3 linked regions of the Homo sapiens genome follow. The protein of the gene in region 1 purifies or fractionates together with the protein of each later gene. This does not show direct contact. Each region holds a gene or a part of one and is shown in the gene's direction. Other genes may lie near its edges.

The links. The genes of interacting proteins can lie anywhere in the genome.
Region 2: the proteins of CS (region 1) and LAP3 fractionate together in Homo sapiens (co-fractionation; 2 studies listed by BioGRID). This does not show direct contact.
Region 3: the proteins of CS (region 1) and TRAP1 purify together in Homo sapiens (affinity purification with mass spectrometry; 2 studies listed by BioGRID, with this or other methods). This does not show direct contact.

The regions. Positions count from the first base shown.
Region 1 is NC_000012.12:56,289,709-56,297,821, reverse strand, and holds part of CS (citrate synthase, mitochondrial precursor), read left to right. Parts: intron 1-8,113. UniProt on the Homo sapiens protein: Key enzyme of the Krebs tricarboxylic acid cycle which catalyzes the synthesis of citrate from acetyl coenzyme A and oxaloacetate.
Region 2 is NC_000004.12:17,593,667-17,601,779, forward strand, and holds part of LAP3 (cytosol aminopeptidase), read left to right. Parts: intron 1-1,743; coding exon 1,744-1,868; intron 1,869-3,379; coding exon 3,380-3,468; intron 3,469-4,789; coding exon 4,790-4,892; intron 4,893-8,113. UniProt on the Homo sapiens protein: Cytosolic metallopeptidase that catalyzes the removal of unsubstituted N-terminal hydrophobic amino acids from various peptides.
Region 3 is NC_000016.10:3,685,943-3,694,055, reverse strand, and holds part of TRAP1 (heat shock protein 75 kDa, mitochondrial isoform 1 precursor), read left to right. Parts: intron 1-3,070; coding exon 3,071-3,229; intron 3,230-4,918; coding exon 4,919-5,001; intron 5,002-7,919; coding exon 7,920-8,060; intron 8,061-8,113.

The DNA.
Region 1 (8,113 bases):
TAGTAAGGTAGACTTTGGGAGGCAGTAATTTCCTACCAGGGAGAACTGACTCTTACCACTTTGAGTCTCAGCGTCAGGTGTAGTTTTACTTTTCTGAGAAGAAATTTTTTTTTGTTTTGAGACAGAGTCTTACTCTGTCACTCAGGCTGGAGTGCAGTGGCGTAATCTCCGCTCACTGTAACCTCTGCCTCCCAGGCTCAAGCGATTCTCGTGACTCAGCCTCCTGAGTAGCTGGGGTTAGCAGGTGTGCACCACCACGCCCAGCTAATTTTTTGTATTTTTGGTAGAGACGGGGTTTCACCATATTGGCCAGACTGGCGAATTTTTTTAACCTTACTAGGAGACAACATGTGAATTAGTCATTGTTCTATTGTTCTACTCTCACTGTCACATAATTTAAATGTCACATAATTTAAAACACCTGAGTTAGAAGCTAATTCAGAGAGCTTTGAGATTATTTGACTTCTTGTTTATCCAAATTCATTAATGCTAAGCAATGGCCTTAGTATTATCTGTGGGTGACTCAGTTTTGTGACATCAAAAATGTCTTTTCACAGATGATCTGGGTTTGGATTTGGGCTAGGAATTGAAGTAGGGCTGCAGTTCACTTCTGGACTTTTGAAGTCAACATGCTTAACCAACCCTAGCTAAAGGGAACTGTCTCTTGAGCCACTGAAAATTGCTTCTCCAAGCTAGTATGTTTGAAACTGAGTAAATCAATTCAAAGATGTTTCTAGATTACTTCTAGACTTTTTCAAGACACTTAAATGCAAAGGAACCAATGGTTTCTTTACATTGGACTTATACCACTGTACAACATCACCTGTATAAGTCCTACTCAGAAATTGGGTTCAACAAAACCGAGTTGGTTTTGTCCTGCAAAATATTTAGTTAGGTTTTAAAGCCCAAATTTTTTAAAGGTAAGGGCTCATATCTCTGTGCCCTCACTTTGACTATCAGCCTACCCAAAGTAACGGTGATTCCTTGATACTAGAATGGCAGGGGAAGCCTTATGGGGTGTTAGTGGTGAGATGACTGCATTTGGTCTTCCCAGTGGCCTTTAGGTTGGTAGCAGGTGAATGAATGCATGGGGAGGCAGCAAGAATAGTATGGTAGGTAGCAGCGATAGAGTTGGCATTCCTGACTTAAAATCCAAGGGGCAGCAGAAGGGAAACCAGACTTGGTGGATTTCAATAAAGCCACACAATGATTCTTTCTGCCCTGTGTCAATACTTTATGCAACAGAGTAGGATGTGAAATTTAAAACCGTAATGAGGCAACTGTAGCAATAGATCTTTCTTAGCATCTGATTATCTTTCAGTTCTGGCTTCAACTGTGCTTCAACTGCACAAGTTCCTTAGTTCTCTGTTTTGGGTTTTTTTTGGGGGGTGGGGCTGGAGTGCAGTGGTGCGAACATGGCTTGCTATTACTACAGCCTCAACCTCATGGGCCCAAGCAATCCCCCCGAGTAGCTGGGACCACAGGCACGCACAGCCACGCCTGGCTAATTTTTTTGTAGTTTTTTTGGAGACAGTGTTTTGCCATGTTGTCCAGGCTGGTTTCGAACTCCTGGGCTCAAGCAATCCACCAGTCTCAGCTTCCCAAAGTGCTGAGATTACAGGCGTGAGCCACTGCACCCAGCCCTCTGTATTTCTTTTAACATGATGCTATTTTAAAAGGTCTGTAAACTCACAGTGGGCATTGTCACCTGTAATGCTTGCTTATGTTGCAGTTTCCTGGATCCTACCTTCAGATTACAATTCTGCAAAGTAGGATGGGATCTGGAAAAGTTTCTTGTAAATCCCTAAAGTGTCAGGGAGTTAAAACTTGTAAGAACTTCTTTTTTTTTTTTTTTTTTTTTTTTTTTTTTGAGACAGTTTCGCTCTGTCGCCTAGGCTAGAGTGCGGTGGCTCGATCCCGGCTCACTGCAAGATCCGCCTCTGGGGTTCACGCCATTCTCCTGCCTCAGCCTCCTGAGTAGCTGGGACTGTAGGCGCCCACCACCTCGCCCCGCTAATTTTTTGTATTTTTAGTAGAGACAGGGTTTCACCGTGTTAGCCAGGATGGTCTCGATCTCCTGACCTCGTGATCCGCCCGCCTCCACCTCCCACAGTGCTGGGATTACAGGCGTGAGCTGCCGCGCCCAGCCATAAAACTTCTACGAACTTCTAGCAGAAGTAAGGGAATAGTTTCTAATTCCTGAGAAAGTATTATGATGACAGATCCTATATTCTTTATTCACTAGTATATACTTAGTGTACACATAATAAGTAGGTGTTCAAGAATTTTTTTTTTTTCCTTGAGATGGAGTCTCGCTCTGTCACCCAGGCTGGAGTGCAGTGGTGTGATCTCGGCTCACTGCAACCTCTGCCTCCCGGGTTCAAGCTATTCTCCTGCCTCAGCCTCCCTAGTAGCTGGGACTACAGGCACATGCCACCACGCCGGGCTAATTTTTGTATTTTTAGTAGAGATGGGGTTTCACCATGTTGGCCAGGATGGTCTTGAACTCCTGACCTCGTGATCCACCCGCCTCAGCCTCCCAAAATGCTGGGATTACAGGCATGAGCCACCGTGCCCGGCCAAGAAATATTTATTAGCTAGGCATGATGGCTTATGTCTATAATTCCAGCACTTTGGGAGGCTGAGGTAGGAGGATCACTTGAGCCCAGTAGTTTGAGATCAGCCTGGCAACATAGCAAGACCTTGTCTCTTAAAAAAAAAAAAAAAGTTCATTAAATTAAAGTACAATAAGTGTTGGCCAGGCACAGTGGCTCACGCCTGTAATCCCAGCCCTTTGGGAGACTGAGGTGGGCAGATCACTTGAGGTCAGGAGTTCGAGACCAGCCTGGCCAACATGGTGAAACCCTGTCTCTACTAAAAATACAAAAATCAGCCAATCGTGGCAGCTGCCTGTAATCCCAGCTACTAGGGAAGCTGAGGCACAAGAATCACTTGAATCCGGGTGGCAGAGGTTGCTGTGAGCTGAGATCATGCCACTGCACTCCAGCCTGGGCAATAGAGTGAGACTCGTCTCAACAAAAGAACAGTAAGTGTTCCTACTGAAAGGAAAGTTTAATACTTGTGATTCCTGGCTGGGCATGGTGGCAGGCACCTATAATCCCAGCTACTCGGGAGGCTGAGGCAGGAGAATCGCTTGAACCCAGGGGGTGGAGGTTTCAGTGAGCCGAGATCGCACCACTGCACTCCAGCCTGGGTGACAGAGACTCTGTCTCAAAAAACAAAAATAGACTTGTGATTCCTTTCTGAAGATGGAAGCTGGAGGAGTATCTTTTGCAGTCCTCCTTACTGAGTGATCAGTGCATCTTTTTTTTTTTTTTTTTTTTTTTTGAGACAGAGTCTTGCTCTGTCGCCCAGGCTGGAGTACAGTGGCATGATCTCGGCTCACTGCAACCTCTGCCTCCTGGGTTCAAGCAATTGTCCTTTCTCAGCTTCCCGGTTAGCTGAGATTACAGGTGTGCGCCACCGTGCCCGACTAATTTTTGCATTTTTAGTAGAGACAGGGTTTCACCATCTTGGCCAGACTGGTCTTGAACCCCTCACCTCAGGTGATCGGCCTACCTTGGCCTCCCAAAGTGCTGGGATTACAGGCATGAGCCACTGCACCCAGCAGTGATCGGTGACTATTCACGTGAAGAGACTGTTGGAAAATGACAGTTAGGTAGAATTATTAAGGAAATGTCTGTAAGTATGAAGGAGGTCAAAGTATGAAATCTGTAGATTGCTCAGGCTTTTAAGTGGCCTGACCATGTAGTGCCAAACCGACTTCCAGTATCACCGTTGTGAAACACACACATTAAATGGCTTTAGTTCTCTGACCTGGTTCTGGGGAGAGAGGAGCCTTTGTCCTATTTGTGTTCGTGTTCTCTGAATGCAAGTTGTTCCTTCTGCATTGGAAGTGTCTGTAGTACAGGATTTTTTCCTACTGGTTATTAGTGTATTGTGTTTGCTCCATCAGCTAAGCCAGTCCTGCTGGCTTGGCAAGCTCTGATCTTTTGTTGATGAAGGACGAAGTCCCTGTTAAAATCAGGAGCTTCTTCCGCAAGGTTTTTCTGTTTTGTTTTCTAATTTTTTTTAGTATTATTATTTTGAGACGGAGTCTTGCTCTGTCACCCAGGCTGGAGTGCAATGGCGCAATCTCAGCTCACTGCAACCTCCGTCTCCCAGGTCCAGGCGATTCTGCCTCAGCCTCCCGAGTAGCTGGGACTATAGGCATGTGCCACCACGCCTGGCTAATTTTTGTATTTTTAGTAGAGATGGGGTGTCACCATGTTGGCCAGGCTGGTCTTGAACTCCTGACATCAGGTGATCCACCCACCTTGGCCTCCCAAGGTGTTGGGATTACAGGCGTGAGCCACCGTGTCCAGCCTGTTTTCTAATTTTTTAAATTATTTTTTGTAGAGACAGAGTCTTGCTTTTTAATTCAGAAATGCTGGGATTATAGGCATGAGCCACTGCGCCCAGCCTCCCCCAAGGTTTTAATGTTGGTTATGTGGATATGTGGTAGGACATATCCTGGATATGCAGAAGGACAGAGAGAGTCTGGATGTACCTAGGATGGAGAATCAAAGAAAATTTGGCTTCTTGACTGTAGGGTGAGGGTGCTAGATGTGGAACAGTGATGGTAATAGGCTAAGGAGTAAGAGGAAAATAACCTATATTGAGTAAGTGGGCTTTTTTTGTTTTGTTTTGTTTTTTGAGACAGAGTCTCCTCTGTTGCCCAGGCTGGAGTGCAGTAGCACAATCTCAGCTCACTGCAGCTTCAGCCACCTGGGTTCAAGCGATTCTTCTGCCTCAGCCTCCTGTTTGAAATGCTTGTTCCCTGGTGCTGTAAAGAAATAGCACTTGAACATAAATTTAATTAATTTAATTTAATTTACTCAGCAAGGCCTTTTTTTTTGAGACAGAGTCTCACTCTGTCGCCCAGGCTGGAGTGCAGTGGTGCGAACTCGGCTCACTGCAAGCTCTGCCTCCCAGGTTCACGCCATTCTCCTGCCTCAGCCTCCTGAGTAGCTGGGACTACAGGCGCCCGCCATGACGCCCGGCTAATTTTTTTTTTTTTTTTTTTTTTTTGTATTTTTTTAGTAGAGATGGGGTTTCACCCTGTTAGCCAGGATGGTCTCGATCTCCTGACATCATGATCCGCCTGCCTTGGCCTCCCAAAGTGCTGGGATTACAGGCGTGAGCCACCGCGCCAGGCCATCAAGGCCATTTTTATACTTTCTGCAGAAAGGGTACACGCCAGCAGTTTTGCCACGAGAGTACACCGAGCAAAGGAGACAGGGTCATTTATACCCTGATGCATCCACCCTACTGCTGTGTCCAGTTCCAGTTTCCATTGGCTGGAATGGGACCTCACATTTTGTATTTGTCCTGATTGGCTAGCAACTTAGAACTTTTTTTTTTTTTTTTTTAGACCAAGTCTTGCTCTGTCAGCCAGGCTGGAGTGCAGTGGCACAATCTCGGCTCGCTGCAGGCTTTGCCTCCCGGAGCTTCTCCTGCCTCAGCCTCCCGAGTAGCTGGGACTACAGGCACCTGCCACCACACCTGGCTAATTTTTTGTATTTTTTAATAGAGACGGGGTTTCACCATGTTAGCCAGGATGGTCTTGATCTCCTGACCCCGTGATCTGCCTGCCTTGGCCTCCCAAAGTGCTGGGATTACAGGCTTGAGCCACAGTGCCCAGCTGCAACTTAGAACTTTTTTAAAGAGGCAAAGGCAGAGGAGAACAAAGGAAGGTGTGAGTCACCATACCTGGCCTCTTTTAATTTTTATATTTTTTCATCTTACCACATTTGAGGGCTACAGCCCACCTCTATCAATAATAGCTGACTCACTAGAGGAGTTCTTGTAAGGGGTGGCAACAAATGAGCTCTTAGTGATTGTGGGGGAAAAACCTCTTCGTGATTGTGATAACGCCACCTCCACCCTATAGAGAATACTGGCTGTCAGACATTGTGAGCCAGGCCCTTGTCTTTGGAAGTAGCCCTCTCCATCTCTCCCCATGAAGGAGCTGACCTATTGAGTGAGATGACTGCCTGATTCTCCTGAGAGCTGCTGTTCCAGTAAGGTGACTCTACAGGTGGCATGCATCCAGAAGCCAAAAGCCCAACTGTCACACCTCCAGGATTAGGGGAGAATCTGGGAGGTAGAAGTTCAGGGATGATTCAGAGGTTTGTAATCTACCTGTCTCATCAATGAACATAACCTGAATGTACTGTTCAGAGCCATTCAGCAGCTTTCTTTGGCAGCCACGGGGTAGAGGAAATGAAATGTAGCCTTTGATGTTACAGTCCTCAAGCACCTCCTGTCTAGAGTCATTTGCTCTGCTGGTGGCCATCAGGGTTAGTTAAATTTGTTTCCTCTCCCTGAGATGCCTCCCTTCTTGGTCAAGAAGCCCTTAAAAAGAAAACTGGTATCTTTTCCTTGATGCCTGTTAAAAAAAAAAAAGAAAGAAAGAAAGAAAGAAAATTGGGACTTTATTTTGTATTCCACAGCTGGAAGGAATTATCCATTCACCTCTGCCTCAGGCTTGACTGCCTCTTTCCTGGGATCCAACTCCCAGGAAGTTCTGACACTTGATGGTAGGTGATAGGCCAACACATTTGTAAGAAACAAATATTTACTGAATTCAGCTATGCACAAAGCACTGTTCTAGATGCTTTTATGAAAATTATTTTATTTAGTTTACTTAACTACTCTGAAATTGGCTTTTATTATTACCATTTTAGAAATGTAAAAACTGAGACTTAGAAATTAGGTTACATAGCCAAGATAACACAGTGGGAAGGTGGCAGAACGTTCATTTAGGACTTGGTCCTTGGTAACTCCATATCTAAACTGTTTGGATTCAGTAAGTCTGAGGCCCAAGAAATGTAAATACTTCTGGCGAGGAGGTCACATTTTAAGTAACAAGACTTGACTACTTTTGCATATACGTCCTTATTGGAACCTGAGAATCAGACTCTGAGTTAAGTAGTTTAAGTGTTATCTTAATTATGGAAATGGGAAGAGAAATAGTAGTTCATTGTTTTCCTTTGGTTGTCTTAATTAGTAATGGAGCTAGGACTAGAACCCAGACTTCCTTTCCTAACTCCAAATTAAGTGCTCTGTACTCTACATCATTAGATAAAGTTGTCCTAAGTTGAATTTTTTCTACTCTACCCTTTTGAGCAATCTTACCAATGAATTGCTGCCTTTAAAATTCCTCTGATAACTTTTTTTTTTTAAGCTTCAGGTTTAGCAAAAAACATGACTGAACCTGACACCGAACGGTGCTAGAAAGTGGCTATCAGGCTGAGCGCGGTGGCTCACGCCTGTAATCCCAGCACTTTGGGAGGCCGAGGTGGTGGATCACGAGGTCAGAAGTTCGAGACCAGTCTGGCCAACATAGTGAAACCCCATCTCTACTAAAAATACAAAAAATTAGCCGGGTGTGTTGGTGTGCACCTGTAATCTTAGCTACTCAGGAGGCTGAGGCAGGAGAATAGTGTGAACCTGGGAGAGGGAGGTTGCAATGAGCTAAGATTGTGCCATTGCACTCCAGCCTGGGTGACAGTGTGAGACTCCTTCTCAAAAACAAACAAACAAACAAAAAAACATAAAATCTTCCGGGCACTGTGGCTCATACCTGTAATCCCAGCACTTTGGGAGGCTGAGGCAAGTGGATCATTTGAGGTCAGGAGTTTGAGACCAGCCTGGCCAACGTGGTGAAACCCTGTCTCTACTAAAAAACTACAAAAATTAGCTGGGCATGGTGGCGGGTGCGTGTAGTCCTGGCTACTCGCGAGGCTGAGGCAGGAGAATCGCTTGAACCTGGGAGGCGGAGGTTGCAGTGAGCCAAGATCAAGCCACTGCACTCAGCCTGGGCAACAGAGCAAGACTCGGTCTCAAAACAAAACAAAACAGAAAGTCAGCTGGTTGCAGTGGCTCATGCCGGTAATCTCAGCACTGTGGGAGACTGAGGTAGGAAGATCGCTTGAGCCCAGGAGTTCAAAGCCAGCCGGGGCAACATAGCAAGACCCCCGTCTCTATAAGAAAAGTTTAAAAGATAAAATTAGCTGGCCGGGCGCGGTGGCTCACGCCTGTAATCCCA
Region 2 (8,113 bases), on another chromosome or scaffold:
AGTGGTGCAATCTTGGCCCACTGCAGCCTCGACCTCCCTGGGCTCAGGTGATCCTCTCACCTCAACCTCCCGAGTAGCTGGGACTACAGATGCGAACCACTATGCCCAGCTAATTTTTGTATTTTTTATAGAGATGGGGTTTTGCCGTGTTGCCCAAGCTGGTCTCGAACTCCTGGGCTCAAGTGATTTGCCTGCCTCAGCCTCCCTAAGTGCTGGGATTACAGGCGTGAGCCACCACACTCGGTGAATCTGCTTGTTTTTTCACACAACAAAACCTACTGAGATTTTGATTGAGATAGATTTTGTGTGTGTGTAAAAATGTGCTGTTTTTATGGTTAATGAAATGACAGTGGTGAGACTGATACAGAAAGACCCGTTAAGGAGACCTGACAAACATCCAAATGACAGAGGGTAGTAGCATCAATGAGGGCGGCTGAGTAGAAAATAAGTGGGTGGATTTGAGAGAGATTGAAAAAGTGAGCCAAAGCTGATTGCTGATCTTTAACTGGTGGCTACCTTAGAACCATAGTCATAGGAATTAGAGAGCAGAACTTCCAGAAGAGGCCTGCAGATAAATGTGGCAGGTGGACAGAAGAAAAACTTCAAATACAACAGCGTGTTCCCTTTGTCCATGGGGTTTACCCATGTTATTTTTCTTCTTTGAGCCAGGGGATCATCTTTAATTCTTGGTGAACATGCCAACCATCTAAGTAACAAGTGCTTCTGAGGTAAGTGAGAATTAGGATTTAATTTTGAAGGAAAGCAGACTTCAGAGCAGCAGGCAGACCTCTCTCCAGTGAGCCACCAGGGCACATGAGCAGCAGATCTCAATTAGAACTTAGAGTCGAAGCCCCTGGCTCTGTGCTTGGCCTGTGAAGCATGTTGCTTCTGGACTCCTACGGACTGGAAGCAGAAAAACCACTAGCTAGTTAGAAGCCTCTGGGGGTCAGGTAGTTTGGTTTCTTGCTAATTGCAGCCTTATTCAGTTCTCATGTTGAAGTACTGTCTCTCAGCCATTGGGCCTGTGCCTCATTTAGGTTGTATTTTGCCATCAGCAGGATATAGCACACCTTGTGCAGTGTTGGAAGGAAATGTTAGCCCTCTGTCCTGTCGGTTTCAGAGAAATGCCTCCAGTCATCTCTGTGAGCTCATCAGCTTTTCTTAACAGCTCATGACCTTCACGTTCCATAAGTTGATCAATTCATAAAATTTGCTGAATAGACTATGTGGGTGTCAGGAGTTAATCAGACAATACAGAGATGGAATTTGCACAGTCTTGATTTTATGATATAGTAATGTTTCCAGTGGCACTGTTTAAATTTCATTCAAGTAGAAATAAAATGAGCTAAAGGCTGGGCGCGATGGCTAATGCCTGTAATCCCAGCACTTTGGGAGGCCGAGGCTGGCGGATCACGAGGTCAGGAGATCGAGACCATCCTGGCTAACAAGGTGAAACCCCATCTCTACTAAAATCACAAAAAAATTAGCCAGGCATGGTGGCAGCTGGGACTACAGGCGCCCACCACCACACCCGGCTAATTTTTTTGTATTTATAGTAGAGATGGGTTGCACCGTGTTAGCCAGGATGGTCTCGATCTCCTGACCTCGTGATCCGCCCACCTCGGCCTCCCAAAGTGCTGGGATTACAGGCGTGAGCCACCGTGCCCATCTGTACTTTTTAAATAAAGTGATTTTGGCCATCTTCTTTGCTCTTAATATTGCACGTTGTCCATTTCCCCATAGTGGTGGTATCTCCATCAAGGCTTCTGCAAATATGGACCTCATGAGGGCTGACATGGGAGGAGCTGCAACTATATGCTCAGCCATCGTGTCTGCTGCAAAGCTTAATTTGCCCATTAATATTATAGGTAAGTGGGGTAACGGATTACATCTCATAACGCTTCTGGATTCTAGCCAGGTGGGAGAAGAGAGACAACAGATATGATTTCCCCTAATCTGAAAAGATAAGAAATGATTTTTAAATAGTCATCAAGCAGTAGCTATTTAGCCCAGATAAGTGTTTTACTGTCTGAGCTGATTGAGCTAAATGTATCTTGCAACCAGTGGGCTGTAACTGGAATTGATTTGTTTCACTTCTGCAAAAAGTGGCTAGCAGTCAGGGGCACATAATGTCAAGTTTGTAGTTGACATTATGAAACTTGCTGGGTACTTGGGGTGGCAGGACGTTGCTGGCTCATTGACTGATTGCTTCGTAGGATTGTGGCCGGTGAAATGGCACAACACACAGAAAGTGCCTAGAACAGAAAAAGTGCTCATTATGTGGCAGTTCTTAGTAATGGAAGATACAAACTCCCAGGCACAGTACTGGGAGTTTGTATAATAGCATTGCTCATACTCATTTCAGAGGAGACGGGGAAGGAGGAGAGAGTCTTAGGTTAAATAATAATGCCCTGACTCTTGTCCATTGCACAAGGAAGGTAGAATTGGAATCCAGGTCTCAGACATGCCCCCCTCCTTCACTATCATAGTCCTTTTTTTTCCTGAACTATTTAAAAGTCAGTTGCAGACATCACGACACGTCCTCTAAGAAAAAGGACATTCTATGTAATGACAAAACCATTATCTTTTCCGAGGATTAATTCAGTAACCTAATTCAAGTTTCCAGTTGTGTAAAAAATGTCCATTTTATTTATTTATATTTAGGTTTTTTTGGTTTTTTGGTTTTTTTTGAGATGGAGTTTCGCTCTTGTTGCCCAGGCTGGAGTGCAATGGCGCGATCTTGGCTCACCACAACCTCCACCTCCCGGGTTCAAGTGATTCTTCTGCCTCAGCCTCTTGAGTAGCTGGGATTACAGGCATGCGCCACCATGCCTGGTTAATTTTGTATTTTTAGTAGAGACGGGGTTTCTCCATGTTGATCAGGCTGGTCTTGAACTCCTGACCTCAGGTGATCTGCCCGCCTTGGCCTCTCAAAATGCTGGGATTACAGGCATGAGCCACCGCGCCTGGCCTATATTTAGCTTTTAAATCCAGAAACTAATCAAGGACCACACATTGCTGTTGGTGCCCCTTTAGATTTCTTGATTCTAGACCCTATTCCTGTTTTCTTCCACGGCATTAGCAGTTTTGAAGGGTCTAGGCTTGTTTCATGATATTCTGCAATTTGTATTTATTTGAATTGCTTCTTCTTGATTAGAATCAAGTTAGACTTCTTTGGGAAGAATGCTACATGGGTGATGTGTACTTCTTGTTGCTGACACATCATGTCAGTTGTGTCATTGGTGATGTTAAATTTGATCAGTTCGTTAAGGTGGCCTTTGTGTCTTGCTTCTCATGGCTCACAGGTGGCCTCTTGTCCCATAGGTGGCATGTTTGGACCCAGTATATACTGTGTGCCTTCATATATTATTTCCAATAGGTCTGGCCCCTCTTTGTGAAAATATGCCCAGCGGCAAGGCCAACAAGCCGGGGGATGTTGTTAGAGCCAAAAACGGGAAGACCATCCAGGTTTGTAAATGTGAGACACAGCACTCCCCATCCAGCGTTCCTCAGGAATCCCGTGGTGGCCACATAACCACAGCTAGGATGCGTGCAGAGCCCCAGAACCATATTAGGGGAGGGTGCTGTCTTTAGTGCTGGGTAGCCTTTCTTTTCCTTCCCTTTCCTGAAATGGGGTCTCGCTGCATCACCCAGGCTGTAGTGCAGTGGCGTGATCATGTCTCACTGCAGCCTTGACCTCCCCAGGCTCAGGTGGTCCTCACACCTTAGCGACCTGAGTAGCTGGGACCACAGGTGCGTGCCACCATGCCTGGCTAGCTTTTTGTAGACACAGGGTTTTGCCATGTTTCCCAGGCTGGTCCCAAACTCCTAGACTCAAGTGATCTGCCCACCTTGTTCTCCCAAAGTGCTAGGATTACAGGCGCGAGCCACCATTCCCGGCCCCTGAGTAGCTTTTCTTGCAAAGGCAGAAGTATCTTTTTTGGGGGATTTTGAAGAATGTTTTTCCAGACTTATTGTTCCTCCCATTTCCTGTATGCTATACATGTGTATACACACGTTTCCATGAATTTGCTGCCAGCCCTGCAGAGGGCGGCAAAGCAGTAAAATTGTGGGCTATCTTCTGGATATACCTGTGCTATGAGTGACTTTTTTCCATTGTAGGTGTTGAGGTAGAACATACTGTCCTACATCATGGGCCCTGCACTGAAGGGGATGTGGCAGCAGGTCCTCTGGGTGGCACGTGCATGCAGGTGTGTACAAGCCACTCAGAAAACGACTGGACCTCTATTTAAAAGAAAGGAATATAGTTAGGAAGTGTTACTGAAGTTGCAAGAGTTTTCATTTCTAGGATTGAGACTGCCATGTAGCTGTAGCTTTCTTAAAGCTCTTTAACCTCATTTTTGGAAATCTTTACATTTTTCCCCTTCTTGTTACAAAGTTACGGGTAAAATGGACTAGACATTTTTCTATTTATTTTGGCTTCCAAAGTCATCAACATTAGGTCATCAGCTCTGGTACAGTGATTATTATATTATTATTTTTTTATTTTTAATTAGAAATGGGGTTTCACCATCTTGCCTAGGCTGGTGTCGAGCTCCTGGGCTCAAGCTGTCTGCCCACCTCTACCTCCCAAGGTGCTGGGGGATTATTAAATCATATTTGCTCTCCAGATTAGATATGTTCCTATTCTCATTGAAGTATGAATGGTTTGATAATGACACACGTCACAGTAGCTTTTTCCAACTTTTCCGTCGAACACTGTTGCAAGTGTCTAGTTTTCATATTCTTTACTTGCGCTGTCACCCTTTCTGTTTTTGACCCTCTGCAGGTTGATAACACTGATGCTGAGGGGAGGCTCATACTGGCTGATGCGCTCTGTTACGCACACACGTTTAACCCGAAGGTCATCCTCAATGCCGCCACCTTAACAGGTCAGACCGCGCACTTGCCTTGATTTTGTTTGAAGGAAGTCTTGTTCGTTGCATGGATTTCACACACTATACTTGTGGCATTATTTTGCTAAAATTTGGCTTGGTCCATTGGCATTCAAAGATCTTTCACCAGAGGAATTGTTCTGCAGTTGTAAAATGTTTTGAATATTAGGTTTGTCGTTTTAAAACATTCCAAGCTGTACTTTTTTTTTGAGACGGAGTGTCACTCTGTCATCCAGGCTGGAGTGCAGTGGCGTGATCTTGGCCTCCTGAGTTCAAGTGATTCTCCTGCCTCAGCCTCCCAAGTAGCTGGGGTTACAGGTACGCACCACCAGTCCTGGCGAATTTTTGTATTTTTAGTAGAGACGGGGTTTTTGCCATGTTAGCCAGGCTGGTTTCGAACTCCTGAACTCAGGTGATCCACCCGCCTCAGCCTCCCAAAGTGCTGGGGTTACAGGCATGAGTCACTGTGCCTGGCCTAATTTTTATATTTTAGTAGAGATGGGGTTTAACCATGTTGGCCGGGCTGGTCTCAAACTCCTGACCAAGGTGATTCACCTGTCTCAGCCTCCCAAAGTGCTGGGATTACAAGATTACAGAAGTGAGCCACTGTGCCCAGCCTGGGCTGTACCTTTAAGCAGAAATAACAAGTGCGCCAGATCAGCTCATCTAGAGTGACATCTAAAAATGATGTTAAGAGCCAGGAGCGGTGGCTCACACCTGTAATCCCAGCACTTTGGGAGTCCGAGGCAGATGGATTATGAGGTCAGGAGATCGAGACCATCCTGGCCAACATGGTGAAACCTTGTCTCTACTAAAAATACAAAAATTAGTTGGGTGTGTGGCACGTGCCTGTAATTCCAGCTACTCGGGAGGCTGAGGCAGGAGAATTGCTTAAACCCCAGAGGTGGAGGTTGTAGTGAGCCGAGATCATGCCACTGCACTCCAGCTTGGTGACAGAGCGAGACTCCCTCTTAAAAAATAAAATAAAATAAAATAAATGATGTTAAGAGATTGTTTCTGTTACAATTACCATTTGATACAGATCTGAAAAGATTAGTGATAAATCCCCAAGTCAATAGCTTTCTTTTACTTTTTTAAACTAATTGTAATGTATCTAATACCCTCTGAGCTTTCAGAGCTTTACTTTTTTTTTTTTTTTCTTCTGGAACTTTTTATACTTGATGTCATAAGGAAATAAAAACATTTTACCAGAGTAGCAGGATTCTCATTTAACAAGTGACACAGTGTGAAGCCAGCGCTTTAAGGCCAGGCTCAGGTGGAACTCCCAGCTGTGCCACTTACTAGTCAGTTAGCCGTGGGCAAGTTTCTTGGCCCTTTTGAGCATTGGTACTTGGGGACAATTCCATTTGCTTGGAAGAGCTGTAAAGGCTGGAGGGAGTTTCTTGAAAGCCTCTTTAATACAGGCTGTGACACCACCAGCCCTGGAGGGCTGGGAATAGATTCCTAAAGGGATGACAAACAAGTGTTGTCTTATTGCCAAATCCCAATGTTCATAATCTTGCATCCAAATGTTCTCTTCCTAGTAATTCATCCTGACTCTACCCCTTTTTAAAAAAAATTAATTTCTGAATCTTAAAGTCAGACTCTACCTCTTTTAAGATGAAAATTTAGATCATTTTTTATCCTTTGGTTTTATTCTTGCCCTGGTCATGTTGAGCCTTTACTTTGGCAGAAATCATGTTCCCTTTTGTATGTAGGTCTAAAAATAGTCCACAGGTCTATTGCTAAGAGTTTTTTTTCAAAGCTGGCATTATAGTGTTTTCATGGTTTTTGGTCTATCTATTCAGTTTAGCAAACACTTTACCTGAAAAGCAGAGCTTCTAGGGTGGGGGGTTGGGGGAGGCACTGGCAGTGAAGCGAGTACCCCCTTACTGTAAATGAGGAATCACAGAGGATAGATACATCAGATACGTCAAGTTCTACAATTTAAACATAACGTTCATAATTACCACTTGGGGAATACTTTTCCTAGATGCTTAATAGCAGCATTCTACCCCACTTTTTTCTCAGTCTGAGGGGTTGAGAAGGTGGGAAAGTTGGCCCTACGTAAGCAAGGGTGACCTTCTGGGTGAGCTTTCAGACCACACCAGGTGATGGTTCCCCAAATACTACTGAGCCCCTTCTGAGTTCCAGAAGCTAGGGTTCCAAGAGGAGAATAAGAACCAGTTTCTAAACTCAGGCTCTTGATAGGAGGAAGTACACAGTCTTCAGAAATAGAAGACCTGATTTTAAAACTTGTCCTAACTTTTAATAGCACGTTAAAAGTTGGACTAGGCTTTAGTTGTCTCATCCATAAAAGGGGTATAATAGCACCTCGTTCACAGGAAGGATGCCGTGAAGATTAAATGAGACAATACAGGTTGATGTCCATGGCCCAGTACATCATAGACACTGAAACAGATGTTACTGTCCTTTGCCTTTGAAAGGCAGGCCGTACCCCAGATTGTAGGAACAGTGACATATTCGGGGATGGCCATATCCAATCACAGTGTTTCTTTTCATTTTCTTAATGCTTGGGCATAATTTAGGATTGAATGAGTGTGGTGCTATCCTCACTTTCCTTGGGGCTTTGATGTTTCTTCCAGACTATGAGCAATTCTGGTAACATTGATCAGTGAGCATCACAACACAGGGCTCCAAACGTGCCTTGTAAATAAAAATGGGAAGTATGCCTCTGCTACTAGTAGTTCTGAAATGGGCTGTGGAAATAATTCTGGAATTATAGAGAATAAACTATTTAGCTATATAATAAAATCATCTTTAGAGCCGTGGTCCCAACTGGACCACCTTAAATACTTATGTCTGCCATTTTTTATTACTTTAAGGGAAGATAGCATGGTCTTGTTTGAGGGGATTGTTCATCTTTTCTATGACAAATTTTAAAACTGATAGATGACTCTTAGGGGGTTGACTGAAATATTTTGAGGACAAGTGAATAATTATATAAAAAACCACTAACTTGTAAAGTATTAATAGGTATGTATATATTGTCCCTCAGTATGCGTGGGGGATAGGTTCTAGGATCCCCCCTCAGATACCAAACCCACGATGCTCACATCCCTTATGTAAAATGGCATAGTATTTATATATAACCTATGTACATCCTCCAGTACACTTAAGTCATCTCTAGATTAGTTATACTGCCTAATACAATGTAAATGCTATGTAAATATTCGTTACACTGTATTGTTTAGGGA
Region 3 (8,113 bases), on another chromosome or scaffold:
CCTCCAGTGGGAAGCACCGCTGCCCAGAACCTGGGACCTTTTTTTTTTTTTTTTTGAGACAGAGTCTCGCTGTCTCACCCAGCCTGAAGTGCAGAAGTGCGGTAGTGTGATCTTGGCTCACTACAGCCTCAACATCCTGGGCTCAAGTGATCTTCCCACCTCAGCCTCACAAGTAGCTGGGACTACAGGTGCACACCACTACACCTGGCTAGTTTTTGTGTTTTTTGCAGAGATGGAGTCTCACTTTCTTGCCCAGGCTGGTCTTAAACCCCTGGGCTCAAGCGATTCTCCTGCCTTGGCCTCCCAAAGTGCTGGGATTACAGGTGTGAGGTTGTGTGCCTGGCTCAGAACTGTGGACCTTTTTGAAACTGCCTAGTTTGTGGTGCTGTGTTTCAGTAGTCCTAGGAAACAAAATACACAGTCACATCAGTTTCTGGTTTATCCTTTTTGTGTTTCTTTTACACAAATGGTGAGAAACACTGATATGCTCTGTGGGCAGGTGTTGGCACTTGGACACTTCCCTCCTGTGCCCCCAGGGCTGGCTGTGCTTTGGAAGGAGGCACAGAGACTTCAGCACCCTGGTTTGATGTAGACTGTTCGCGAACTCCTCTAATGCCAAATACCATTTAATTCCAGAAGAAATGTCCCGGGATTTTTTTTTTTTTTTTAACTGTACGAATAAAGTGAACAATGCAATTACATGGGCCCAAATAACTGGATGTTTACATGGTTTGGAATTTGAATACTTTCTGAATTGTGGTAGATGTTTTTAAGGTATCTGCATAGAGATAAAGACAGGCTAGGGTTGGCCGGGCATGGTGGCTCACGCCTGTAATCCCAGCACTTTGGGAGGCCTAGGTGGGTGGATCACCTGAGGTCAATAGTTCGAGAGCAGCCTGACCAATAAGGTGAAACCTCGTCTCTACTAAAAATACAAAAATTAGGCATGGTGGCTGGTGCCTGTAGTCCCAGCTACTTTGGAGGCTGAGACAGGAGAATCGCTTGAACCCAGAAGATGGAGGTTGCAGTGAGCCGAGATCACTGCACTCCAGCCTGGGCGACAGAGCGAGACTCCATCTCAAAAAAAAACAAAAACAAAAGGCCAGGTTTGTGCTGTTTGTAAGTCCAGGAATAAGCCTAAAGAATAGGCAAGTTTTGGCTGGGCACGGTGGCTCATGCCTGTAATCCTAGCACTTTGGGAGGCTGAGGTGGGCAGATCGCCTGAGGTCAAGAGTTCGAGACCAGCCTGGCCAACATGGTGAAACCCTGTCTCTACTAAAACTACAAAAATTAGCTGGGTGTGGTGGCAGGCGCCTGTAAACCCAGCTACTCGGGAGGCTGAGGCAGGAGAATCGCTTGAACCCGGGAGGTGGAGGTTGCAATGAGCCGAGATTGCACCATTGCACTGCAGCCTGGGCAACAAGAGTGAGACTTCATCTCAAAAAAAAAAAAAAAAAAAAGGCAAGTTTTTGTACCTTTTAGGAGTATGAAAGTTGATATGTTAATTTTTTTTTTTTTTTGAGACAGAATGTTGCTCTGTCACCCAGCCTGTAGTGCAGCGGCACGATCTCGGCTCACTGCAACCTCCACTTCCCAAGTTCAAGCCATTCCCCTGCCTCAGTCTCCCGAGTAGCTGGGATTACAGGTGCCTGCCACCATGCCCGGCTAACTTTTGTATTTTTAGTACAGATGGGGTTTCTCCATGTTGGCCAGGCTGGTCTCGAACTCCTGACCTCATGTGATCCGCCTACCTCAGCCTCCCAAAGTGCTGGGTTTACGGGCGTGAGCCACCGCACCCCTGGCTGATATGCTGATTTTTAAAACCTTGATTCCTGGATATTCTGTTGTCTTTCCTTTCTACTTGTTACAAATTTGTGAAGAACAGGAGAGGCTCCCAGTTAGATGCGGTTCATTTAGGCTTAGACTTTGACACGGCGTGGCTGGCTGGCCACATATCCTTGACACCATCACGTATTGCAAATCTACTGACCAAGGCAGGGTCCTGGTATGTGGTCCCTGGGGTCAGTGGGTGTTGGTGTTGGGTCGGTCCAGTCCTGTGTTGGAGTGAAAGTGTCTGGTTTCTGGGCCTGCGTCGGTGAACTGCGTGCGGCTGGGGACACATTGGCTGCTTTCCTCCCTCGCTGGGCTCTGCCGGCAACTTTCTCAGCCCACTGGACTGAGCAGGAAGTTACAGAAGACAAGTCTCCTTCTTAGTTAGAAGGTAGAACCCATCGTCAGCTGTTTTTCAGTTTTTAAAGTACACAAATTTTTTTTAAAAAATCTGTTTTGGATGAAAAAGCAATGGGAAAGAATCAACTTTTAGAAGATGAGACAGTTTCAGAATATTAACATTTAAATATTTGGATCCCTTTTGGGAGGATTTTTTTTTTGCTTGACTGTCAAGAGCAAAGAAGTGTGGCCCATCGGGGGCTTCTGCAGGGGCTGCGAGGGTCGAGACAGGTTTCAGTTTGGTAGGTTGATGCGAGGTGTCACCCGTGAGGCGAATGTGGGAAGTGCTGTCAGCAGGCATCTGCCAGCTGGGCATGGTGGCTCACGCCTGTCATCCCAGCTCTTTGTAAGGCCAAGGCGGGAAGATGGTTTCAGCCCAGGAGTTCGAGACCAGTCTTGGCAACATAGCAAAACCCCATTTCTACAAAAAATTTTTTAAAAAATTATGGGGGCATGGTGGTCTGTGCCTGTGGTCCCAGCTACTCGTGAGGCGGAGGCAGGAGCATTGCCTGAGTCCAGGAGGTTGGGGCTGCAGTGAGCTGTGATCGCAGTGACAGAGCGAGACCCCCTCTGAAAAGAAGGCAGCAGCCCACCCCCTCCAGTTTCGCTTCTGCGGTTCTGAGAAGACACAGTATCTTACACTGATGACATCTGTGAGGGCTCCTTGCCAAAACCACACCCTGACACTGTGGCATTTGGTCCTGTGGATTTCTCTTTCAGCAACAGCCCGACTTAGAGATGTCCACGCTAGCTTCTGCTAGACACCCTTGATGGGACGAATTACCATATTGTTTCTCGTGTCTTCCTAATTCTCATTCTTTCTGCATATTTGTCTTTTCAGGAAAACCAATTCTGTGTCCTCGGAGGACCACAGCCCAGTTGGGCCCCAGGCGAAACCCAGCCTGGAGCTTGCAGGCAGGACGACTGTTCAGCACGCAGACCGCCGAGGACAAGGAGGAACCCCTGCACTCGATTATCAGCAGCACAGAGAGCGTGCAGGGTAGCCTTGGCTCGTGCTTTGGTCTGGGAGGGCTTTTTGGTTCACTGCTGTGCGTAAAGGGGCATTTTCAGGGTGGAGGCAGTGATTGGTAGAGCCACCGCCTTAGGTGTGAAATCAGAAGGTCTTGGCTGTAGGGAGTGCTGCGCCCTCCATTTCTGTCCCAGCGAGGGACTTCTGCCAGTGTCGGGTGTGTCTTGCCCCCTCTGGTGGCCACCCGTGAGTTTGCCGTCCGGCACCTCCCCTGAGTGGTGATTCATGGCACATCTGCTAATAATCATGGAAGCGGGAGGGGAAACTCAGCATTGGCCCAGTCTGCGCAGGACCGAATTCTGGAGCTGTCTTTTCATTCCCTCTGAAGTATAAAAAAGCAGTCTTTGGAGCCAGTCCTGAAGTGGCTCCATTTCTGGCTTTTAAGTGGGTCGACAAGAGTAGAATCTTTGAAGTTAAAAAGAGAAGTGAGGTTTTCTTGTTATTTTGATTTCTAACTAATTAATTTGGAAACCGCTTTTTTGAAGAATATAGTCCAGGCACAGTGGCTCACACTTGTAATCCCAGCACTTTGGGAGGCCGAGGCAGGAGGATTGCTTGAGGCCAAGTGGTCGAGACCAACCTGGGCAAGATAGACCCTTTCTCTACAGAAAAAAATTAAAAAGTTAGCCAGGCATGGTAGCACACACCAGTGGTTCCAGGTACTTGAGAGGCTGAGGCAGGAGAATCGGTTGAGCCCAGGAAGTTGAGGCTGCAGTGAGCACGATCCTGCCACTGCATAGCAGCCTGGGCAACAGAGCCAGATCCTGCCTCTAAAAAAAAAAGAAAGAACATATAATCTGGTTCTTAGAGGCAGTCCAGTTCTCGTAACCATGCACATTGGGAAACCAGGCTCAGCATTCCCTCGACATAGCCCGAGGCATGTCTGGCCTCAGCAGTGGGAGGATTTGTCCTGCCCTGAGACCTCCTTTCTGAGAGACTTTTTGTTTTGTTTTGTTTTGAGACAGGGTCTTTCTCTGTCACCCAGGCCGAGTGCTGTAGTGCAATCATGGCTCACTGAAGCCTCGACCTCCCTGGCTCAAGTGATCCTCCCACCTCAGCCCCCTGAGTCACTGGGACCACAAGTGTGTGCCACCACCGTCAGCTACTTTGTGTATTTTTTGTAGAGATGGCGGGATCCCTCTGTGTTGCCCAGGCTGGTCTTGAGCTCCTGGGCTTAAGTGATTCTCCTGCCTTGGCCTCCCAAAGTGCTGGGATTACAGGCATGAGCCATGGTGCCCAGCCAGACTTTGTTTCTGTCTGCTTCTTTCTTTTTGTTCATGATCTTAAATGTGTGGGAGGCCGAGGCGGGCCAATCATGAGGTCAGGAGATCGAGGCTATCCTGGCTAACATGGTAAAACCCCGTCTCTACTAAAACTACAAAAAATTAGCCGGGCGTGGTGGCAGGCACCTGTAGTCCCAGCTACTCGGGAGGCTGAGGCAAGAGAATGGCGTGAACCCGGGAGGCAGAGCTTGCAGTGAGCCGAGATCGTGCCACTGTACTCCAGCCTGGGTGACAGAGCGAGACTCCGTCTCAAAAAAAAAAAAAAAAAAAAGTTTAAAACTCATAAACTTAAGCTTTCTTTGGAATGTGACGTAGCGTATTCTTGCACAAAAATAGAAGTTAAACTTTGTTGGTTGTGTCTGTGTTTCATTACTAGGTTCCACTTCCAAACATGAGTTCCAGGCCGAGACAAAGAAGCTTTTGGACATTGTTGCCCGGTCCCTGTACTCAGAAAAAGAGGTGCGTTCCCTGCTAACCATGCCCGATGCTAGCAAAGTTTCTTTTCACAAAGCTGGTTTTTATGCCATTCTGGAGAATTGCCAGATAATATATTAGCTGTGAGAAAGCATTAAACTTTGGACAGGTCCTCATCTTAAGCTACCAGTGAGAGGAGTTTTACCAGAATCTGTTTTGGTTTCCTGGATAAGTGTATCCAGATGGTTCTTTGGGCTGGATCAACTCTGGGAATTAATTGAATTTTGCCAATAATTTTAAAAGTTCCCGAAATACAGGCCTGGTGTGGTGGCTCATGCCTGGGAACTCAGTGCTTTGGGAGGTCGAGGCAGGAGGATCACTTGAGCCCAGGAGTTTGAGACCAGCCTGGTCAACACAGCAAGACTCCGTCTCTACAAAAAATTTAAAAAATTAGCCAGCTATGGGGGCACTGACCTGTGGTCCCAGCTACTCAGGAGGCTGGGGTGGGAGGATGACTTGAGCCTGGCAGACTTTGGGGCTGCAGTGAGCCATGATTGTGTTACTACACTGACCTGCACAACAGAGTAAGACCCTCTCTCCAAAAAAAAAGTCCCCCAAATCCTAGCGTGCAGCTCTGCTGAATTCCGTCTCTGTGGAGCTTTGGATACGCTCTGAGGCCCCTTTGCCTGGTGGGACTACCTGCAGGTCTTGGCGGCTTTGGCTGCCGGAGGAAGAAGGTTCCCCAGTCCTGTGTGTATGGAGCAGGGAGGAGTTACTGAGGAAATTAAAACGCATTTGGGGCCAGGTGCGGTGACCCACACCTGTAATCCCGGCACTTTAGGAGGCCAAGGTAGGAGGATTGTGTGAGTCCAGGAGTCTGAGACCAGCCTAGGCAACGTGAAGAGACCCCATCTCTATTAAAAAAAACCCCGCAAAACTCATTTGGGGTGACAGGACAAGGAAAAAGAAAGATGAAGGCCACCATCGTTGACATGCTGATTATTGCTGGAAGGCAAAGGAGAGTCCTGAAGAAAGTTTGTAAAGCAGCAGATTTCAAAGCTCAGAGGGCCTTCTAGGAGCTGTTTCCGGGTTTCGTACTGATGAGTGCTGCATTCCTGACTCCCAGTGACCTCCAGCTTCCGCCCAGATCAGCCACCGCTTCCTCTTCACCTATGTGCTCTTGCGGACTTAATTTTTCTATTTTTAATTGTGTGGGTTTTTGTTTTTTTTTTTTTTGGTTTTTTAATTTTTTGGAACAGGGTCTGGGTCTGACGCCCAGGCTGGAGTGCAGTGGTATGATCTCGGCTCGCTGCAACCTCCGCCTCCTGAGCTCAAGCCATCCTTCCTCCTCAGCCTCTGGCTGATATTTGTATTTTTTTGTAGAGACGGAGTTTTGCCGTGTTGCCCAGGCTGGTCTTGAACTCCTGGGCTGAGGTGATCTGCCTGTTTCAGCCTCCCAAAGTGCTGAGATCACAGGTGTGAGCCACCACACCCGGCCTCTCTCACTGATTTTAAATGGAAGGTCTGTTTGAGGTCAGTGTGCTTTTCAGCTCCTGAGGGACAGCTGGGCCCTGAGGCCTGTTTTTCTCCGGGTGTGGTAGACCTGGTGTTTGGTGGTCCCCACTAGATGAGATGAAGCTAGGGAACCTGTTTTTGTGGAGTAGGAGTGTATTAGTCCATTTTCACGTTGCTGATAAAGACATACCTGAGACTGGGCAATTTACCAAAGAAGGAGCTTTAATTGGACTTACACCTCCATGTGGCTGGGGAAGTCTCACAGTCATGGTGGAAGGCAAGGAGGAACAAGTCCCGTCTTACATGGATGACAGCAGGCAAAGAGAGAATGAGCAAGACACAAAAGCAGAAACCCCAAAAAACTGTCAGATCTCATGAGACTTACTCACTACCACGAGAACAGTACTGGGGAAACGGCCCCCATGATTCACTTATCTCCCACCAGGTCCTTCCCACAACACGTGGGAATTATGGGAGTACAATTCAAGGTGAGATTTTCGTGGGGACACAGCCAAACCATATCAAGGAGAAATGGATGTTTGAGTGATATGCCGTCATCCCTGTGCAGGAGTTGGGAAAGAAATTGTTCCTCGCAGGCCTCTTTTGTTTGTTTTTTTGAGACAGAGTCTCTCTCTGTCGGGGCTGGAGTGCAGTGGTGCCATCTCGGCTCACTGCAACCTCCGCCTTGTGGGTTGAAGCGATTCTCCTGCCTCAGCCTCCTGAGTAGCTGGGATTACAGGTGTGTTCCATCACGCCCAGCTAATTTTAATATTTTTAGTAGAGACTGGGTTTTGCCATGTTGGCCATGCTGGTCTTGAGCTCCTGACCTCAAGTGATCCACCTGCTTCAGCCTCCCAAAGTGCCTGGATTACAAGCATGAGCCCCCAACCCCAGCCAGAGGGCTCTTCTTAAAGTTATAATTAACAGATGGACACGTAACTTCAGGCTTGATTAAAAATCCTGAAAAGGGCCAGGCACCGTGGCTCACGTCTGTAATCCCAACACTTTGGGAGGCGGAGGCACAACGATCACTTGAGCCTGGGAGATCAAGACCAGCCTGGGCAACATAGCGAGACCCTGTGTCTATAAAAATTTTAAAACAATTAGCTGGGTGTGGTGCATGCCTGTGGGCCCAGCTACTTAGGAGGCTGAGGTGGGAGGATTGCTTGGGTCCAGGAGGTTAAAGCTGCAATAAGCCGTGATTGCAGCCTCCAGCCTGAGTGACAGAGTGAGACTCTCAAAGAAATCCTGAAAGGAAAGTCAGCACCTTCAGTCACTTTGTGACCGGCCCAGAGGAACTGCCTTTGACTAAAGCAGAAACTCTTTATGCTTTGAGAATTGACTATTCTCCTCTACCTTTTAACAGTTATTGGAAGTGCAGCTGACCAGATAGATCCTGCAGGATGAGTGTCCTTCATTGTCTGTGCCTCCCATTTCTATTCCTGTAGGTGTTTATACGGGAGCTGATCTCCAATGCCAGCGATGCCTTGGAAAAACTGCGTCACAAACTGGTGTCTGACGGCCAAGCACTGCCAGAAATGGAGATTCACTTGCAGACCAATGCCGAGAAAGGCACCATCACCATCCAGGTACCTCCCTCAGTGTCCAGGCGTGTGGCAGGCCCGGCCATGCAGCAAGGACA